Linked DNA regions of Homo sapiens: regions 2, 3 and 4 are each linked to region 1. Evidence: fine-mapped expression QTL. A gene starts in region 1. Each other region holds a variant in brackets. All regions are shown on one strand. Distances are from middle to middle.

The links. PIP is the estimated chance that this variant, and not a neighbour inherited with it, causes the effect.
Region 2: its variant is fine-mapped to the expression of CDH13-AS2 in whole blood (INTERVAL, PIP 0.93).
Region 3: its variant is fine-mapped to the expression of CDH13-AS2 in whole blood (TOPMed, PIP above 0.99).
Region 4: its variant is fine-mapped to the expression of CDH13-AS2 in whole blood (TOPMed, PIP above 0.99).

The regions. Positions count from the first base shown.
Region 1 is chr16:83,801,935-83,807,085 of GRCh38, reverse strand. CDH13-AS2 (CDH13 antisense RNA 2) reads left to right here and starts at 3,110. Exons shown (of 3, transcript NR_120308.1): 1 at 3,110-3,417; 2 at 3,558-3,651. RefSeq lists a silencer at 4,694-4,853.
Region 2 is chr16:83,741,770-83,746,920 of GRCh38, reverse strand. All of the region lies in intron 10 of CDH13 (cadherin 13), which reads right to left. The region is part of intron 1 of CEDORA (CDH13 antisense oligodendrocyte and neuron associated lncRNA); the gene reads left to right. Among named protein-coding and RNA genes, the nearest start is that of CEDORA, 29 kb to the left of the region's middle. The variant A/T (reference allele first, on the strand shown) is at 1,904.
Region 3 is chr16:83,724,045-83,729,195 of GRCh38, reverse strand. All of the region lies in intron 10 of CDH13 (cadherin 13), which reads right to left. It overlaps CEDORA (CDH13 antisense oligodendrocyte and neuron associated lncRNA), which reads left to right. Exons shown (of 4, transcript NR_188499.1): 2 at 197-328; 3 at 3,608-3,721. Among named protein-coding and RNA genes, the nearest start is that of CEDORA, 46 kb to the left of the region's middle. RefSeq lists an enhancer at 758-1,258. The variant A/C (reference allele first, on the strand shown) is at 2,126.
Region 4 is chr16:83,767,528-83,772,678 of GRCh38, reverse strand. All of the region lies in intron 11 of CDH13 (cadherin 13), which reads right to left. All of the region lies in intron 1 of CEDORA (CDH13 antisense oligodendrocyte and neuron associated lncRNA), which reads left to right. Among named protein-coding and RNA genes, the nearest start is that of CEDORA, 2.8 kb to the left of the region's middle. RefSeq lists an enhancer at 3,067-3,206. The variant A/T (reference allele first, on the strand shown) is at 3,124.

The sequences.
Region 1 (5,151 bases):
CGAGTCTGTAAAGTGAAAGCAAGTTTAAGAAAATGAAGGAATAAAAGAATGGTTACTCCATAGACAGAGCCCTGAGGGCTGCTGGTTGCTCATTTTTATAGTTATTTCTTGATTATATGCTAAACCAGGGGTGGGTGATTCATGCCTCCCCTTTTTAGACTATATAGCGTAACTTCTTGACGTTGCCATGGCATTTGTAAACTGTCATAGCGGTAATGGGAGTGTAGCAATGAAGACAAGCAGGGTTCACTCTTATTGCCATCTTGGTTTTGGTGGGTTTTGGCCGGCTTCTTTACCGCAAGCTGTTTTATCAGCAAGGTCTTTATGACCTGTACCTTGTGCTGACCTCCTATCCCATCCTGTGACTTAGAATCCTTTAACTGTCTGGGAATGCAGCCCAGTAGTTCTCAGCCTCAGTTTACCCAGCTCCTATTCGAGATGGAGTTGCTCTTGTTCAAACGCCTCTGCCAGACCCACCAGTGTCTCTAACAAACCCGGAATCCAGTTGGCCTTGAGGCATGAGACTTCAACTCCCTTTACCACCCCTTCCCCCTCACTCACACCTTTGCCCCTCACCCTTCACACCTCATCCTTTCCTATAGAGAGATCTTCCTTTCTGTGTAAGTATACACAACTTTTTTGTAATTGGCTGTTGTCAACTGGTATTTGGCTAGTGCTTTACCCGACTACTTGAAATAAAAATATCTCAGTGTTTTAAGTTAATCCTCAGAAGACCCTGTGATATAATTATCATAATTTTACATTTTTGAGAAAACAGATGCAGAGGCGTTAAGAAACTGGAACAAGGTCATCAAATTAAGGAAGTAAGAGACGCAGGACTTCCTGACTCTGCATCTTCTCCTTTTTTCTCACCATTCTAGAATTCTCTGAGTTTTTTGAGCTTAGAGCAGAGTTTCTCAAGAGCTGCAATACTGGCATTTGAGTCAAGTCGTTCTTTATTGTTGGTGGTGGAGGGGGCACCCTGTATATTGTAGGACGTTGGGCAGCATCTCTGACTTCTACCTACTAGATGCCAGTATCTCAGTTTTCTTAAAAGACTTTTTTTTTTTTTTTTTTTTTTTTGAGATGGAGTCTTGCTGTGTTGCCTAGGCTGGAGTGCAGTGGCACCATGTCGACTCACTGCAACCTCCGCCTCCCCGGTTCAAGCGATTCTCCTGCCTCAGCCTCCTGAGTAGCTGGGATTACAGGTGAGCACCACCATGCCCAGCTAATCGTAAAAGACTTTTCATAAAACTTCAGAACTCCTTAAAAACTAGTGAATAGCCAAGGTGAAGAAAGCCCTCAGGCTTCTGACTTTAGACCCCAATCCCTGGGACTCCCACACTCAGCAAAGAAAGCTGGGTGCCTGCACCCTGGATCTCTGAGCAAACCTGTCTTATGGCTGTGGGCAACTCAGGAACATGAATTAGCACGAGAATCTGGAGTTTTTCTTTCCTTTTCTGGTAAGACACTTGTGGTTTTTTTTTTTCAAATTCCAATTGGAAATTTGCTTTACATGAACAACAAACAAACTTGATACTCTTTTAGTGGAGGCATTATTTGTTCCTTTATTTTTTGCACTTAAACAGACAGGCAGTATGCTTTCTCTGTGTGGAGACCAAGGTCTGTTAAAGGGCTGCTTTTCACGGAAGCTTCACTAATTTATACTCATGGCTGACATACTCACCTTGTGGGGCTGACACACCGAACCTAACTGAATATTGTCCCATTAACAAAACTAATGTATTACGTGTAAGGCACCAGTAATTAACCTTTAAACTTCGGTTTTGAACAACTCTCATTTTTAACCTTTATTTAAGTGTCATAGTTGTCTTACCTCCTCTTGGCATTTTTTTTTTAAAGCTCTTCCTAGATTAATTGCATGTTGTAACTCCCTTTTTCCATTCAAGACAGTTTTGTTTTACGTGCGCTTATTATGGTACTTTTATAATTGCTTTTTGGTTCTCTGGGCCATTCTTTTGACATGCCTCCTTTCTTGGATCTGTACTATGATAGGTGGCTGGGCATGGTGGCTCATGCCTGTAATCCCAGCACTTTGGGAGGCTGAGGCAGGCAGATCACTTGAGACCAGGAGTTCAAGACCAGCCTCGCCAGTGTGGCGAAACCCCATCTCTACTAAAAATACAAAAATTAGCTGGGCTAGGTGGCGTGCACCTGTAATCCCAACTATTCAGGAGGCTGAGCCAGGAGAATCGCTTGACCTGGGGAGGCAGAGGTTGCAGTGAGCCGAGATCTATCCCCTGCACTCCATCCTGGGCAACAGATTGTGACTCTGTCTCAAAAAACAGTAATAATAAAATACACTATGGAAGGTGTTGGTCTGTCCATGTGACCACATGCAATGAGGTGCTTTGTGCGTTTGCCTTGTGTGAGCAGCGATGGAATGATCCTAGCGGGGCCTTGGAGGAACTGGAATGTTCTTTGCCTAGTTGCACCTGCGTCAGCTCTGTAGGCCCAGCCCTGGGGCCCAGCAGCTGCTCCCCTGGTTTGCTTTCCTCCCAGGTTGCCTCATGCTGCTGCTGAGCAACCTTCACCTGATGGGCGGTGCCACAGCAGGGTCAGTGAAGGGTGCCCCTTCCTTCTAGTGACCTGGGCTGCCCTAGCCCTGGCCCTTCAGTAGCCATTCCAAACCTTTCTGGTCCCCCCAAATCCAGGACTTTATCCCCTTCACCCTCAGAGGATGACCTTATATTCTATTTTGTGGAGAAAATGGAGACTGTCCATCAAAACCCCTTAACTCCCGTCCTGCGTGCATTCCTAAGTTCCTACATTAACCCCCGTGTCACTAGCTAACGATCCTTTCTGTCTCAGGAAGCAGTGTTCTTCCTCGCGCACAGGGCTCTGCGTTTGTCTAAGGCAGAGAGACCTGGGCCCTGATCCCATTCTCTTTCCTCAACTCCAGGAACTTGCTTCCTGCATTCATTTTCTTTTTTCCAATGATTCCTCCTTCTCAGCACATAAAAGTGACCAACCCCTCGCCCCACCCCCGCTGCACAAAAAACAAATAGAAAATGGAAACCAGTCCAACCAGGGTGAACCTCCACTGACTGTGTGCCCTTGTTGAGCTACTGCTCATAGGGGAGCTTCTAGAAAGGAAGGACTTATTGTCTTAGTTACTTGATCCACTTCCTTACCTCCTGTTCATGCAACTTTGCTTGTTTTGCTTCTACTAAAATGGTTCTAGGTGCTGTGTGGACAGGTGATACAAAAGCCTGACTCACACGGTTGACATTCATTCATTCCATTTTCATTTCTCTTTGAGTGATCCTGACAAGCAGAGGGTCTCAGGTGGATATTACTGTGTCTTTGAGACCTCTCTAATCCTTATCTATCTCTCATTTTAATACAGAGAGTTTCATACGCAGACCTTAAGTAGACATAGTATCCAGCTAAAAGGTAATTATGCTTTTTTGTTTGTTTTCATTGTATTTATTTTTACTGCTGCTTTATTGTATTCCAAGTGATACTGGTTTTTCATTCATGTTGTTATAATGTAGAGTTTTCTTTTTCTTTTTTCTTTTTTTTTTTTGAGACAGGGTCTCACTCTGTCACCCAGGCTGGAGTGCAGTGGCGCAGTCATGGCTCCCTGTAACCTCAACCTCTCAGACTCCAGCAATCCTCCTGCGACAGGTATGCACCATTACGCTTGTCTAATCTTTGTATTTTTTGTAGAGATGGAGTTTCGCCATGTTGTCTAGGCTGGTCTTGAACTCTTGGGCTCAAACCATCTACCTACCTGCCTTGGCCTCTCCAAATGCTGGGTTGATAGGTATGAGCTACCATGCCCGGCCAATGTACCAGCTTCTTTTAAAATAAATTCAAGCCAAAATTATAAATGTAAAATTACGTAGTTTAAAACTAGAGTTGTAGCTGATGGTACAGGTGGCATTTCAGTGTGGCAGAGTTAGTGAAGGTGCTGAGAGATGAGACAGGGAGACGGCTAAATAGGGACGATATTCCCTTGGGATTAAAGTTTAGAAAATCCTGCCTTGAAAGAAGGCAGGGAGCCAAAGGGTGAAGACATTGCGTGTGCTGTGAAACAACATGGTTACAAAATTTGATAAGGGGAAGCACAGGAACTATGACTGCATCAGGGTAACATCGACTTGCTTCTTCTCCGTGGGGATAAACTCAGAGAGGATGCTGAGGGATGTCAGCAGGTGCTGGGTCCCTGTTTTTCACAGAACAATCCTTCAGGTGCTAGTAAGCCTCAGGAGGAGGATGCTGTCCCGCTGGCACGAGGAGGGGCTGGGGCACGACAGTCATCATCCAAGCAAAGGTAGGGCTTAGTTACAGACACAGAACGGCAGATTTAATCTAGAAACACCACCATCCTGGTACCAGTCTTCTTGGCTTGGATTCCCATGTAAAAATCCAGCGTTGCTACCCTCTCAAGGGTGTGCCCTGGTTAGAATGAGTGGATATTTTGCCTCGCATTACCAAAGCACAAGGAGGTCTCTTTGAGGACTTGTTTGTAAAAAAATCAAACAACAACAAACAAACAAACAAAAACCTAGAAAATTGCTTTTCTCGGGGAGAATGGTGTGATCGGTGGTTGTTCTGACAATTTCACGTTCTCTTGCTTTCGGATTGAAGCATTGGTTTCTGTTTCTTATGTTCTTTTGAGGCAAATTTCCAAATTAGCGTCTCTATGACTGGCTGCCAAGGCATCCGTTTGCTATTTATTTACCCAAACTAGCAGTTTCCTGGAGACAGACTGCCTAGGGGGAAGGAAAGTTTTCTTATAGACCAGATTTGCAAGTTTGGGTTTCCTCTGCTTCATCCCCCATCATTGACAACTTGCTTAGTCCTCAGCACTTTCATGCATTGTTTGTGATGACACAGTTTGTTCCTGGAGATAAATGGGGTGGTGCTGCCTTAGCATATAGCAAGAAAAGTGCCAGGGTGGGGCCATGCATATCACTTAGTAGTCGTGAGACCTACTGTGAGATAGTTTTAACTGTGTGAACCTCAGTTTCTTCATCTATAGAATGGTGCTAATGTCTATTACATAAATTATGTATATGATATATAATTATGTATTACACATAAATTACAAATATAACTACAAGGTAATATGTATATACACATCTATATAGATACGTAAAGTATCCGGCCCGTAGGAAGCAC
Region 2 (5,151 bases), 60 kb after region 1:
TTTTAAAATGTTACTTGTTTTGAGGTTGCTCTTTTGAGATTTAAACAATATAGATGCATAGAGTAAGAAATAATAGTCTTATCTATCAGGGAGACTCAACTGGGCATGACTCAGCTTTCTTTGAATTGGGTGGCTTGGATAATGTGCCACTTGCAGACCTAAGCCAGAAAGATGCTGTTGGCACTTTGCTGCCATTTCCTACCCATCTTTGAAGTACATCCCCATGAAGTGACATGGGAATCTTTACACTGGTAAAGATGCATGAAGTTGATTTTCTCTGCCTTGTATGGCCAGATTTGGGTCTAAGGATGTTTAAAACCTGATTTAACCAACAGGATTGAAAATCTCCAACTGAAGGGCTTGGAGCAAGTTAACCCCGAGTCTTCACGGGAAAAAGATATCTACCTCCTAATCCTGGAACTTGGGAATGTTACTTCATAGAGCAAAGACTTTGCAGAGCTGAGTTAAGGTCTTTGAGATGAGATTATTTTGAGTTATCTTGGGGTTGTTTGTGGTTTGCTAAATGCAATCAGAAGTGTCCTCAGGGGGAGGCAGAGGAGATTTGAGACACAGAAAAGGAGAAGACCACACGACCGTGGAGGCAGAGATTGGAGTGATGTGGCCACAAACCAAGGAATGCTGCAGCCACCAGAAGTGGGGAGTGGCAGGAAGGACCCTCCCCTAGACCTCTAGATGGAACGTGGCCCTGCCAACGTCTTGGTTTTGACTCAGTTAGACTGATTTTGGACTTCTGTCCTCCAGAACTGTGGGAGAATAAATTTCTAGCCTCCATGTTTGCAATACTTTGTTACCGTGGCATTACTAATTTATTATAGTAGGTATAATATCCCCACTTACAGATGAGGACTCTGAGGCACAAACCAACAGCTACGCAAATCGTAGAGTCAGGACGTGGGCCCAGGTGGTCTGACCTTGGAGCTGCGACCCTGAACCCACACTCAAAACTGCTGCTTCCCAGCTAACTTAGTGACTCAGGGTGGGTGGTCAGCAGGTATGTTTCACCTGAAGGATCTTACTTCGAAGAAGATACGAATTCTGAGAAAAGGTGGCCTCTGAGGATAGAGTTAAGTTGAATCGAAGTGTGGTGGGTGGGATTATTCAGATGTAGGTGGAAGCCAGAGGGATGCCTCCTGTGTGGCCAAGGAGAAGAAGAACTGCCCTTGTCCATGACTTAAAGGTCATCTTGGGGGCTGCAATGGGATTGTTACCTGGGGGAGGCTGTGGTCACTGAAGAAGGGATGGTCAACTTGGGTTGTTGAGAAGGGGAGCCAGGGAATAAGAAATTGCTGGCTGACAAAGGGAATGGGCATCTATGCAGTCACCACAAGCCTCATGGCGACCCAGGACAGACAGCAATTCACCTACCACCCTCGCCTGGCCACCATCCAGAGCCCCTCCGAGTGTTCCCAGCCTCTCCTGGAGTCTCAGAACCAATCATCTGGAGGTCTTTGGGCTTCCAGTCAGCATTGACAGATGCTCTGATACAGCGCTGTTGTAAATTTAATTCACACAGAGGCGGTCTGGGTTGGTATCAATCCTTTTTGTGTTGGGGTCATGTGAACTGACCTGAGAATCAAATCAAGTTTTTGTCCTGCAAAGTGGATGTACCAGACCCCCAAACTGCAGAAGGACGCCAGGAGAGGCTCCTGCTGATGCTTCCTGGAAGGCGTCTGGCCTGTTCTTTCCTAAAACAGCCTCGGGGTGCAGCCTCCCTTTAATATTAATAGTAACACAGCTGCAGCAGCATCGAGCCTTACATTGCGCCGGCTGGACACCGCTCCAGGAGCTTCCAGCATCTATGCCTTCAGCCCTCACACCAGCCCTGGGAGGTTGATAATATTATTCCTCCCCTTTTACAGATGAGGAACTGAGAGGCCTAGAG[A/T]TATGTGAACTTTGCCAAGATCATTGGCTAATATGGGGCATGGTTGGGATTCGCAGGCTGGATCTCTGGTGCCAAGGCCTGCTGTCACCCTCTGCTGCTTCCCCCCAGCCGTTCACATTGCCAGCATCACATGAGTGTTAGAGTCATGGACTCTGGAGAGGAAAGGACCTGGGTTCTAACAGTGAGCCTGGCAAGCTACTTCTCTGTGTTTCTACTTCCTCCTCTGTGACTCGGGGACAGTCCCAGTGGTGTTCTGGGGTAGCTGTGAGGGCAAACTGAAGCTGACACAAAGGGCTTGGTCTTGTGCGGGGCGCCCTCGGGGGAGCCGTTGCAGAGTCAGGCTATGGGTGTGTTAATGGCTCACTGGGGTCATGGCCCTGTGTGTCCTCCCTGATGTGACTCACACGGTCCCCTGGAATGTTTCAGAAACATCCGACTCAGCAGAGCCTAGGGGAACAATGTTTTGATGCTGCAACTGTGACAGGGGACAGATGGGGAGAACGGATGAGGCGAACGCAGGGCTTCCACATGCCCTTGCTGCTGCAATGATCCTTTCACTATTTTGTGAAAACAGAAGCGATGAATTACTCATGAGAATGAACTGCTTTAAAAACACCAGGCTTTCATTTAAAGAGTCATTTATGCTTCCACCTGGCAAATTTTTACTGTTTCAAGACCCCACTCATACGTCTCCTCTCGTTCATCCAGTGTGACTTTCCCAGTAGAATTAATCACCTCACTAGGTCTGTGCGAGGCACATGCACTGGTAAAAATGCCTTTGGGAGCCTAACACGGGCCCTGACGGCTCTGCCATCTCCACTAAACTCTAAGCTCCTTGGTGTCAGGATAGGTAAAAGTTGGTCAATAGACACACAGAATGCTTCCTTGGGCCCAGCTTGGTGCTAAACCCTTTAAGAGCATCACTACATTTATTTTTGTGACTCATGACAACCTGATGAAGTGGGTATCATCCTTGTTTTAAGGTTGAGGTAACCAAGAATCAGAGAGGCTTAGCAACTTGTCAAAAGCGGCCCAGTTAATAAGAGACAGAGCTGGAATGTAGCACCAGCATGCTGGATTCCAGGGGCTGGGCTTCTCGGTACACAGTGTTTTTCATGCCTAAGGCTGGGGTGGTGTGCTCTGCACCCCCAGGGCCGAGTAGAGTGCCTGGACGCAGACGGTGCCCGGTAAAGGTTTATTACATCTTTTCTCCTTCTGTTGGAACAATCATGGGGATGGAAAAAGCAAAGAAAAAAAAAAAAAAAAAAAGAAAAAAGAAAAAAGGCAACTCATCAGGTAGCAAGTTTCCTGTTGATCCAGGAGTGATTGGTAGTGGTTCAACATATTTGAAATAATGAAAGTTTTAAATGAACCGCATTCTATTGCCTGATTACTCAACTCAGTTTAGAAGATAAATAAAAACTGAATTAAATAAATTTGGCTTTCATGTTTGGCGTACAAGCAATGCTCTTTGATGCTCCCTCTGTCATTCCTTTTTTGTCCCATGATGCCATAATTTTGTTGTACAATTAGCATGTTTGCTTGTTTCTTGTCAAAGAAGCAGTTGTATTCAATAAAATGCTTAGAGACATGAACTCGGAGGCAGTCCTCAGAAACAATACTCAGCACGGTTAGGCCTGCCTGCGCCACATTTCCAGGGAAAGCCAGGGTTTGGGTGATTTTACAGGACAATGTCTCACTCTTTTTCCTCCTTAAAAAAATAATCAAGTATCCAGAGCTGTGCTATTTAACTGAGTTTTCACAGGACTCTTTCTGCTCCCCTCTGTTTGCTTATTTTATTTTATTTTTTGAGACGGAGTCTTGCTCTGTCGCCCAGGCTGGAGTGCAGTGGCAGCGATCTCAGCCCACTGCAACCTCTGCCTCCTGGGTTCAAATAATTCTCCTGCCTCAGCCTCCCAAATATCTGGAATTATAGGCACCTGCCACCATGCCTGGCTAAATTTTCTATTTTTAGTAGAGCGGGGTTTCACCAAGTTGGCCAGGCTGGTCTCGAACTCCTGACCTCAAGCGATCCACCTGCTTTGGCCTCCCAAAGTGCTGGGATTACAGGCATGAGCCACCGCACCTGGCCAGTTTGCTTATTTTGTTTGGTGCCTCCTCCCATGGGAGACCTCAAGGAGGTATGCCTGCCCCACAGATGCCCTGGAAGGACAGCTTGCTGCTCCTACTCAGAAACACACCTGCAGACAGAGGAGGACAGACGGACACTCATTTGCTGAGCACCCATGTAACATGAACTAAGAGCTGGGTGGAGACAATGAACGGTGGAGCCATCGTTCCCGATGTGGAGGGAGAACAGCTCAAGACCACGGAACAGCCTGCTCTCCCGCTTCCTGGCTTCCGTGCGCTTTTGTCCAATCAGGCTTTTTGACCAATCGGCCAGGCGCGCTATGTAAATTTCTGACATTTTCAAAGCTGTCTTTTTAATAAACCTTTCAGTGTAAAAATACTAGCGTGCAAGATGTTTTCAATGCTTCTAGGCCTGAAAAATGCATACGCCTTATTAAATTGGAATTTCCGGGCAATTTATCTGTAATGTGAACTTTGCTTGTTACAGGAAAAAAAAAATCAAATTAAAAGCTGAGCTCATTTCAGCCTGTAATGTAGCTTCACAGAAGCTGCTCTGAGTGCTTGCCAAGCCTCGGCCTCTTCTGGGTGTCGGTGTTGGGAGACGCAAGGCAAACTGATTAACAGAATTCGAGTCGCAGGCAGCGCAGTGGGGGTTACTGGGGCCTGCGCCACCCTGGAAGGCGGGCTCACTCTCAGCAGGGCCCCCTCAGAGCAGGGAAGAAAGCTTCCAGGCAAGTGGCCAGGGCCAGCTGTTGACCTGGAAGGACTTCCAGAGCCAAGGGCTGCCAGCCTCTGCCCTCAGGGGCTCAAGTATTGGTGGGAAGGTGAAAGAGATCAAAGGTTTGACAAGTCCCTTCTGCAGGCTTCTTGGGGTCACTCGCTTTCTGTGAGGTAGGGCAGCAGTCCCCAACCTCTTTGGCACCATGGACTGGTTTCGTGGAAGACAATTTTTCCATGAACAGGTGGGGGATGGCTTGGAGATGAAACTGTTCCTCCTCAGTTCAGGCATTAGATTCTCATAAGGAGTGTGCCGCCTAGATCCCTTGTGTGTGCAGTTCACAATAGGATTTGTGCTCCAATAACAATCTGATGTTGTGGCCCAGGGGTTGGGGCCGTCCGTGGCCCAGGGGTTGGGGACCCCTGATGTAGGGGACCCA
Region 3 (5,151 bases), 78 kb after region 1:
AACTGAACATTTGTTGCTGTTCCCCCCAAATTCGGATGTTGATAGAACTCTAACCCCCATTGTGGCAGTACTTGGAGGTGGGCCTCTCCTTAGGAAGTTAAGGTTACATGAGGTCATGAGGATGGAGCTCTGATCTGATAGGATGAGGATCCTTATAAAAGGAGACCCTGTATGCTCCCTAATCCCCACCCTCCAGGTACATGCCCCAAGGAAATGAGGCTACATGAGGACACAGCAAGAAGGTGGCTGTCTGCAAGCCAGAAAGAGAGCCCTCCCCAGAGACTGAACCAGCTAGAACCATGATCTTGGACTTCCAGCCTCCAGAACTGTGAGTAATACATGTCTGTATTCAAGCTGCCCAGTCTGTGGTATTTGGTTATGGCAGCCTGAGCTAAGACAATACTATCTAAATATTAGGTTGAACCACACAGTTGCCATTTCTCTCGTCAAAACCCGTCACATCAGCAATTTCACATGGCCCAACCTAATATATAAACATATATACAATAAAAACGGCATGTCGTAATTGTGTGCTTTCCTTCCTGCTGGGCACAGTGCTTTGAAGGCCGAGAGACACGCTTATTTATCTTTGCTTTCTCTTCTCTCCAGGCTTCCATTGGCACTTGGTAAACACTGGTGACTGAGTGGGTAAATTACAAAGATGAGCATTTTGAATTCCTCTTCCAACAGAAGCTTTAATGTAGTTCTTATCAAGCCTAATTCACTCACTAAAAAGAATTGCATTGCACATATTGGCAGGAGCTATTGAACTGTTGTTTGTCAAGACCTTTTCTCCTCGTTTCATAGGGACTCAAACTAAATGTATCTTCACAACACACACACACACACACACGCACACACATACACATACACACATAGCCAGTGCCATTCAACTGTTAGCGAATCACACCGCTTACGGCTCACAGGCTTGTGGGGTCAGCCCGTGAGAACAGGCACCTTCTCTCCAGGGCCCAGTGTGCACATCAAAGACTTAAACCCTGTGGTCGAGGATAGACTCTGAGACAGAGACGTGGTGTGTGGCTCTGAAGCCTGCCCGCGGTGCTGTTCCCCCTTTCCAGGCAGCGTGCTCACTGCTGTCCACATCTGAGTATGTGTTGCCGCATAACAGACTCCTCAGAGGAGCTGTGGCTCTTTGTACAGTCACAGTTTTCAAAAGCTTTTGCCTCACAAAAGAAAAAGCAAAGCGCCTTCCCTCAGGCAGTTTTCAATTCTTCCCTCCAAATCCATCAGTCAAACTTGATACTTAAACCCTTGAATCCCAAAAGCTCCTTTGAGAAGCGAGCCCATTAGCAGCGGGCGGGAATGGCTGCCCTCCCCGCCAACGCCCCTGTTCACTCCCTGGGCTGCCCTGCTGTGACTGGTGAGCAAAGTTGTCAGCCAGTTCCGTCAAGGGATCTGTCATTCCCAAACCTGTTTGGTCCTTAGTCCTCCTGTCCTGAACACACAGGCCTTTCCTGGAGAGCTAGCAAGCCTAAGACTTTTTTGGCCTTTGAATGCAATTTTATTTTTTAGGGCTTCTAATGTTGATGTACTAACATTCTCGGCTTATAAAATCTCCAATGTTGATATTTCATTTAGTAAAACTGATATTTTTCTTTCTCAATGCGGGAAGGTTGGAAGGTTCTCCTTTGAGAACCCACTGCCGCAGTGGTGATCTCTGGAACAGGTGGATAGGTGTGCACTAAATAAAGCAAGCAGAAGAAGATGTGCTGGGAGAATCTCGGTGATGGGGCAAAGGGTGCTTGCTATAAAATTCTTCCAACGTTTCCACATGTTTGAAAACTGTTCTAAAGTTGAGAAAATACAATAAAATGATGAATGTGTCTGTTCTCTAAACACTCAGCAGCGTCCCTTCCCACGTAGATGTCTTTCTGCTACAAAACCATTAAGGATATCACATGTTAGCTGATTTCATTCCGATGAAATGTCCGTACTAGGCAAACCCACAGAGACAGGAAGCTGGTTAGTGGTCACTAGAGCAGTGGGGAGAAGGAAGCACGTTAACGGTTAAGGGGGATGGGGCTTCTCTTTAGGGTGCTGAAAATGTTCTAAAATCGAGGGCGGTGATGGTTGCACAACTCTGTGACTACACTAAAAACCATTG[A/C]ATTGTATATTTTAAATGGGTGAATTGTACGGTATGTGAATTATATCTCATAAATCAATACAGCTGTTATACATGGGAAAGATAACTTCAAGGAAGGGAGGTATCCATGATTTCCAGGGCTGCTAAAACAGAACAAAACAAGGCACAAACCAAACACTCCTCCCTCGATAGTCTTCAGAATACTCTTGACTGACAGAACGCCAAAAAAGGACGGTGATTTTTTTTTTTTTTTGAGACAGAGTCTTGCTCTGTCGCCCCAGGCTGGAGCGCAGTGGCGCCATCTCCGCTCACTACAAGCTCCGCCTCCCGGGTTCACGCCATTCCCCTGCCTCAGCCTCGCGAGTAGCTGGGACTACAGGGGCCCGCCTCCACGCTCGGCTAATTTTTTTTTGTATTTTTAGTAGAGACGGGGTTTCACCGTGTTAGCCAGGATGGTCTTGATCTCCTCACCTCGTGATCTGCCCGCCTCGGCCTCCCAAAGGGCCGGGATTACAGGCGTGAGCCACCGTGCCCAGCCAACAGTGATGTTTTGATTTTTCTTCCATTTTTTGCCCGTTTAGCAAATACTCAACAAACAAAAGACGTGCAGAGTCTCCCCTGCAGGGCCTGCCTTCTTAGTGGCAATGGCTGCAGCAGAAGGGGCCAAGATAACGATTTGTCTGGAGAATGAACAAATAAATAAATAAATGAATGAATGAATGGACCCTATCTAGGGTCCTTGTTTCTCCAAAACCCGAACAGACACCCCGGTCTTGTCACAAACTTGGCCTGTGACCTGCAGCACATGACTGTCACTCTTGGGCCTCAGTTTCCCCATCTAAAAAACAGAGGTCATGTGAAATGATGGTCTCTAAGGTGCCTTCTAACTGATACATTATGACAATCTTTCCAAAAGCAATTGTTATTCAATGGCTGAGCAAAAAAGTTATAAAATTATCCCTTGTGGGAAGATTCAGACCAAGGTCCAGTTTTCTCTACATGAAAATGCAACACTTTACAATGTTGTGTAAGTGCAGAAAGTGAAAAGACAATCATTAAAAAGCTGAGAAAAATAAAGTCAGGAAAGAATGCTACATAAATCGCTCAGTCTGACTTCAAAGGGAAATTTTTTTCCAAAGTAAGATCATGAGAATTGATTTATGTCCTCAGAGCCAATGCAAATGCAGGATTTGTACAATATCCATTTATCAGTTCCAAAGGAGCTGATTTACGGCCCACCTCTTCTAGTTTGTATTCTGTCCAGCTCAGAAAGTTAACTGACAACACAGAAAGAAATATCCTCTGTCTCATTGCAGATGACGGGTTATAAATGAGCACAACTTGATTCTCTGTTCTGGAAAATTAGTGTTTTGAAACTCTCATTAGAAATTAGTCATTAAAGCTGTTCCCAAACTTGCCTGCTTGGCCCATCACTTTGTTGCTGTTTTTGGTTGTTTAACGTTCTGACAATGTCAGCCAGAGAAACGACTGCCTTTGTCTTAGGTTATTCTAGGTCGACTTCCGTGTCTGGATGTAACCAAATCACCAGCCAGACCGTGACCAGGACACATCATACCGCTTGCCCCCGGCAGAGATCCTGTGCCCACATGTGATAAGGTGGGTGATGCAGACCTGGTGCTCAGTATGTCAGTCACAAACTGTGTAGGCCTGGAGGAGGTGGAGACAGAGGTACCACTTGACCCTCCTTCCCAGATTAGTGGAGAAGACGGAACTCATGTTTCCCAGACTGACGCCTAAGGATAGATTAGATCCACAGGATACACAAGACCCGTTGCAGTCCTGCCTGTGTGTTGAGTGAACGGATCTAGCTCTCTTGGCCACCATGCCTTTGTTTATCCCATTTCCTCTGCCTGAACATCCTTGCCCTGGTCTACCTGCAAGTCTGAGCCCAGCTGTCCCTTCCTTCCTTGACTTTGACTGATGTGCCTTTCTCTCTGCTGCTGTTATATTGTAGTGTTTTCACCTCAAATGTCACTTTCATCATAGCTTTTATACTAAAAGGGTCTGTTTATTCATCTCTTTCTTTCTCTAGACTGAGTGAAACTGGATGACAGAGGCCATATGTGTCGTGGTGACTGTATATCCCCACTATCTGTGAATCAGGGCTTAATTTGCATTGATTGGCCTAATGAGGACACCAATAAGGGAGTCCCAGGGGTAGGATGATCCTGCAGCTGGAAGAAAGGCTGGGAAGCCATATAGAGTTGTACCCAAAGGCCATCTCAAGGGAGCAGCTCCTGGCTGCAGGTTACAATATAGCCCCTGCTCACCCAGCTGGTTGTGTCCCTGCTGACACTTCATCAATCATCTTGCTCCTGACGCTGACACTGCTCAGGCTGGGAAGGGAGGGGAAAGTAAGGATACAGGTGTCTAGGAGAGAGCTTAGGAGATAGGCTCCTTCAGTGAGATGGTAGGAGACAAGCCCCAACATAGTCACAGGGGGCTTCAAGTAAGACGCTTCCTCCAATCTGAGCTGGTTTGAGCTTGTACAACTTCATCCATCCATGTATCCATCCATTCATGCATTCATCATTCATCCATGCATTCATCCACCGACTCATGCATTTATCACTCACCCATGCATTCCACACTCATCCATGCATTCATCATCCACCCATGCATTCATCATCCACCCATGCATTCCTCACTCACCTATGCATTCATCACTCACCCATGCATTCATCACCCACCCATGCATTCATCCCCCACCCATGCATTCATCACTCAGCCATGCATTCCACACTCATCCATTCATTCATCACTCACCCATGCATTCATCACCTACCCATGCATTAATCACCCACCCATGCATTCATCATCCACCCATGCATTCCACATTCATCCATGCATTCATCACCCACCCATGCATTCATCACCCACCCATGCATTTATCACTCACCCATGTATTCATCACCCACCCATGCATTCATCACCCACCCATGCATTCATCACTCACCCATACATTCATCACCCACCCATGCTTTCCACACTCACCCATGCATTCATCACTCACCCACGCATTCACC
Region 4 (5,151 bases), 34 kb after region 1:
TGCACCCGTTGGCAAGCGACTTAATGAGATTGCTTTAAACATGGCTTGATTTTAATTTGTAGAACAAAATTGAATCCATGATTGATCCACAAGGCCCTGTGAAGTGTTTTGTAAAAATATACACTAAGTCTTTATGGTCAGAGTTTCTTTGATGCCGGGAGTTTCTGCTGACCTATATTCAGTGTTATAAGTAATTGGATTTTTCTTTTTAACCAGCAGTTGCAGACTGGCATTTGGTCTGCTAATTTATCGTGTTTCTGGGATGTCCAGTGTTCTAAGAATTCTTATTTTTTATCCAAATGGCTTCAAGTGGAGCACATATTTCCAAGATGACCACTGGTCCTTTCCAGCCTACTGCCTCTGCCCTGGCTTCTAGCAGCATAAGACTTGGGCCTTCCTCATATGTTCCCTCCTAGCTAACCTGACTTTAGCCAGTATAGATTTTTCTTCATTTCTCCATTCCTGAAGTATGGCTCCCTCCTTTCTCTTAAGCATGTCTTTCAGTCTTATACTACTTCTTTTCTTAATATTGAGTCTATTTGTATACATGGATAGTTTAATAGGCATCTCATTTAAGGTTCTCAAATAAGTATACAAGCTAAAAAGTCACCCCCCATCCTTCTCCACCCACAGAGTGTACATTGTGTTGGGTGATATCATGGGGAAAATACCAGGAGCAAACCTTAGCTGCAGGAATCTCTTTTCTCTTGTGTCATTGACTTCTTATTAGAAAGACATGTGTTTTGGTTACAAGGTTGGCAATTCCATCATGCAGCAGTGTGAATGGGATGTAAGGAGATATTTTTAATTTTACCTCCTAATACAACCATATCAAATCCCATTTCCAAATGAGGAAATGAGGACTTGTAGGCACAGATATCTGGAAACAAAGCCTATTTAAAATTGCTTAGTAGGAATGACAGTTTTCCTTCCGACCCATTTTCAGTGACAGCCTGTCACTCTTGACTGAGAGATCTCCAACCTACAAATGTTGGTGGGTTATTTATTTTGCAAGCAGCCCTCCTGCTGCCATACAATGGCAAGTCTTGAGGGGGAAAGGGTTATCATTTTCTTTCCTTTGGATCTGAGTTACTGGCTCTGTTGCTCTAGAGGACTATGCCTTTTAGACCATGGCGGTGCTTTTGCTTCATGGACTTGGCACCCTGCCACGGTCTTCCTGGCATTCAACCTCTGCTTGCCCTTGTTTCTGGCTTTGTCGTTCCCACTCAGCACTGACAACTTGTAAGAGCCTCAGCACATTATATGACCACGATAGGACCACATGGATTCCACTGCTGGATTTCAAACTCCAATAATTAACCTTGTATTTCTTCAAGTTGAGCAGTGATAACTGCCTATGAGATGGCCAAGTTGGCCACCTGGCCTGCCTGGGTTACTCTTGGTCTGGTTGGCTCATGACTTACACTTAGCCTTTTGTGATCTTGGTGTAGGGAGGGCAGAACTGTGCGTTTTCTAAGAGAAGCAGGGTAATATGATTAATAAAAGGTGAAGATTTACGTAGAGGAATCGAGCACCTGTTATCATACAGTCTAGGAAAAGTCCAAGCAAACCAGGCAGGCTGTTGCTTTGAGCACATGGGGGTCTACATTCTAGTTTTTTCTCATTTTCTAGAAAAGAAAACTAGACACTCAGATTAAGGAAAATGTCCAAGGTGCTCTAACATTAGTGTGTCAGAGGCATTGAAATCAGAGCAACTCCATCTTGAATAGGTGCTGGGTAAAATGAGGCAGAGATCTACTGGGCTGCCTTCCCAGGTGGTTAAGGCATTCTAAGTCACAGGATGAGATAGGAGGTCAGCATAAGATACAGGACATAAAGACCTTTCTGATAAAACAGGTTGCAGTACAGAAGCTGGCCAAAACCCACCAAAATCAACATGGTGACAAGGGTGACCTCTCGTGGTCCTCACTACTGCACTCCCACCAGCACCATGACAGTTTACAAATGCCATGGCAACATCAGGAGGTTACTCTCTATGATCTAAAAAGGGGAGGCATGAATAATCCACCCCTTGTTTAGCATATCATCAATAAATAACCTCAAAAATGGGCAACCAGCAGCCTTTGGGGCTGCTCTGTCTACGGGGAGTAGCCATTCTTTTATTCCTTTACATTCCTAATATACTTGCTTTCACTTAATGGACTCGCACTGAATTCTTTCTTGCGTGAGATCTAAGAACTCTCTCTTGGAGTCTGGATCGGGACCTCTTTCCAGTCACAAGCATGTCACCTGTTTAAGAGCTGTGGCCCCCTGGCAGGGCATCCCCATCCCTGGAGCTTTCTGGCTATTCTATAAAGTGAATGGAATGCCTGGCAATTGTAAAGCACTTCCCCGTCCATAAGAGCCAGAGCCACAGAGCTCGAAGTTTGAGTATTTTGGTGCTTGTGGTTGGTACTAAACACTGGTAGAAAGGGTAAAAAACAGTTTCCTGTGCTTTTCTTACCTACATGGCCAACAGTATATTGCTTTGTGTGGGAAGCCTGTAGAACTGAACCAGGACTCCTCCAAGAAACATGAGCCACGCGTGGTTCTCCTGGCATTGCTTTGACGCTGTGGGTGTGGATGCAATGAGAAACAGGGTCAGGTTTTGAAACCATCCCCACAGGGTTGACGGGAATTGCATGCCAGGTTCTGGGTACAAATACAGTTATAATTCAGCGTTAATCAGGCTGCACCCTGGCCCAGTTCCTTGTTGCAGTAGGTCATGTACCGTAACCAAGTACCCTGATTTTTCTGAGGTGGTTTAATTACTTTTTTCTCTTCTCTTCTCCTTTCCCCTTTCAGCCTGCTTCCTACCTAGCCCTTTTTGAAATGCAAAATAACCTCTCACCTCCCCCTCACCACACATTCCCTACAAGGCAAGGTCATCTACGTGCCCCAGTGATCTCTTCTCCAGAATTGACAGTCAATTTGCAGATCAAAGCACATCTCCACGGAACTCCCACTTCTGGGGTGGCCTCAGGAGGACATGGTGAAAACACGCCCACTTGGCCACTTTTACAACTTATTTCTGCCCAGGAAGGCACCAACTCAACTGTATGCCAACTCAGCTGTTTGGTAGATAAGACACCAGGCTAGCAGGGGGACTTCCTGCCCTTGCTC[A/T]CTTCCCCTTTAACCTTATAAACATGTCTGCTTTTTGCTCCAAAGATGAAGCAGCACACTTAAAGCAGGACACTTTGTGTCTTTCCAAGCTAGCTTCAAAAATAAATTCACTTTTCTTGTACCAGGCCTGGATCTTGTTAATTGGACTCTGCTGCAGTGAGTGGCTAACCAGTTCCTCAGTTACAGTAGCACTAGATCCTGACATTTGCTTCCCCACCGTTCCCCTAGATAGGATCTCTGACATTAAGGCCAGAAGACTGTTTAAGAATTGATTTGCATCCCCATTGTTCCTATAGACACTTAAGATGTTTTTCAGACACACCTCCCCAGAATTCCAGCCACCAGTTGGAAGTCTCCCACAGGGGAACAGGATCAGCATGAGAACACAGCTGCTTCCTCTCCCCTTCCTATGACTTCACCCTGTACTCTTGATCTCCACACTTCTGCCCACTCCAAAGCCCTCAAAAACCCAAGCCTCAACTTCCTTGGGGAAATGGCTTTGAGGTTCCCTCCCATCTTCTCGTTCTGTGACCCTGTGGTCAAGGTGTTTGAACCAGAGCAACTCCATCTTGAATAGGAGCTGGGTAAAATGAGGATGAGACCTACTGGGCTGCATTCCCAGACGGTTAAGGCATTCTAAGTCACAGGATGAGATAGGAGGTCAGCACAAGATATAGGTTATAAAGACCTTGCTGATAAAACAGGTTGCAATAAAGAAGACGGCTAAAACCCACCAAGACCAAGATGGCGATGAGAGTGACCTCTGGTCATCCTCATTGCTACACTCCAACCAGCACCATGACAGTTTACAAATGCCATGGCAACATCAGGAAGTTACCCTATATGGTCTAAAAAGGGGAGACATGAATAATTCACCCTTTGTTTAGCATATCATCAAGAAAAAACTATAAACATGGGCAACCAGCAGCCCTTGGGGCTGCTCGATGTCGTAGCCATTCTTTTATTCCTTTACTTTCCTAATAAACTTGCTTTCACTTTACTCTGTGGACTAGCCCTGAATTCTTTCTTGCATGAGATCCAAGAACCCTCTCTTGGGGTCTGGATCATGACCCCTTTCCATTAACACTATGATTAAACCTGTTTCTCTGCTGCAACCTGGTGTCATGGCATATTGATTTGCTGTGTGCATTGGTTAACAAACCTATTGCGATTACAATTTGTGTGTGTGTTTTTTTGTCTATTTAAATTTCAGGGATTTTATTTCATGAAAAACCTTGACCAAACAGGATTTCCACTTAGCTAAAAAACACTGAGATTTTTTTTTCACAGGTTCTGTTGTTCAGTAGCTATATATATAAGTGCTTTATATCTTGTCATTAATAGACATAACTAAAAACATAGTGTGATCCTAATTTAAAAATCTACATATGATTAGAGAAAAATTAGAAAGACATATATAAAAATGTAAGTGGTGATTATTTCCCTAGGTAATTAACATTAAAATAATACATTTATCTATTTTTAATTTTCTTTACAATAACCATGAACATGTTAAACTCAGAATTATGCAGGGATTAAAAATATTTTTTTCTAATTCTACTTTACTTTTTTCTTACTCTTTATTTTTGCGACTATTAATTTTTAGTACATTTACAGAGTTGTGCGACCATCACCACTACCTACTTTTAGAACATTTCATCACCCCCAAAAATAAACCTTGGGCCAATTTGTACTAACTCTTCATGCCCACTCCCAGCCCCTGGCAACTACTGATCAATTTTCTGTCTCTACAGATTCGCCTATTTTGAAGATTTAATATAAATGGAGTCATATAGTAGGTAGTTTTTTGGGTCTGGATTCTTTCACTTAGCATAATGTTTTTGAGGGTTGTACATGTTGCAGTGTGTATTAATACTTCATTCTTTTTTATGGCTGAATAATAATCCATTGTATGGATAGACCATGTTGTTTATCTACTCACCAGCTGATGGACATTGGAGTTGTTTCCACTTTTTGTCTATTACGAATAATGTTTCTGTATTAGTCTATCCTCATACTGCTAATAAA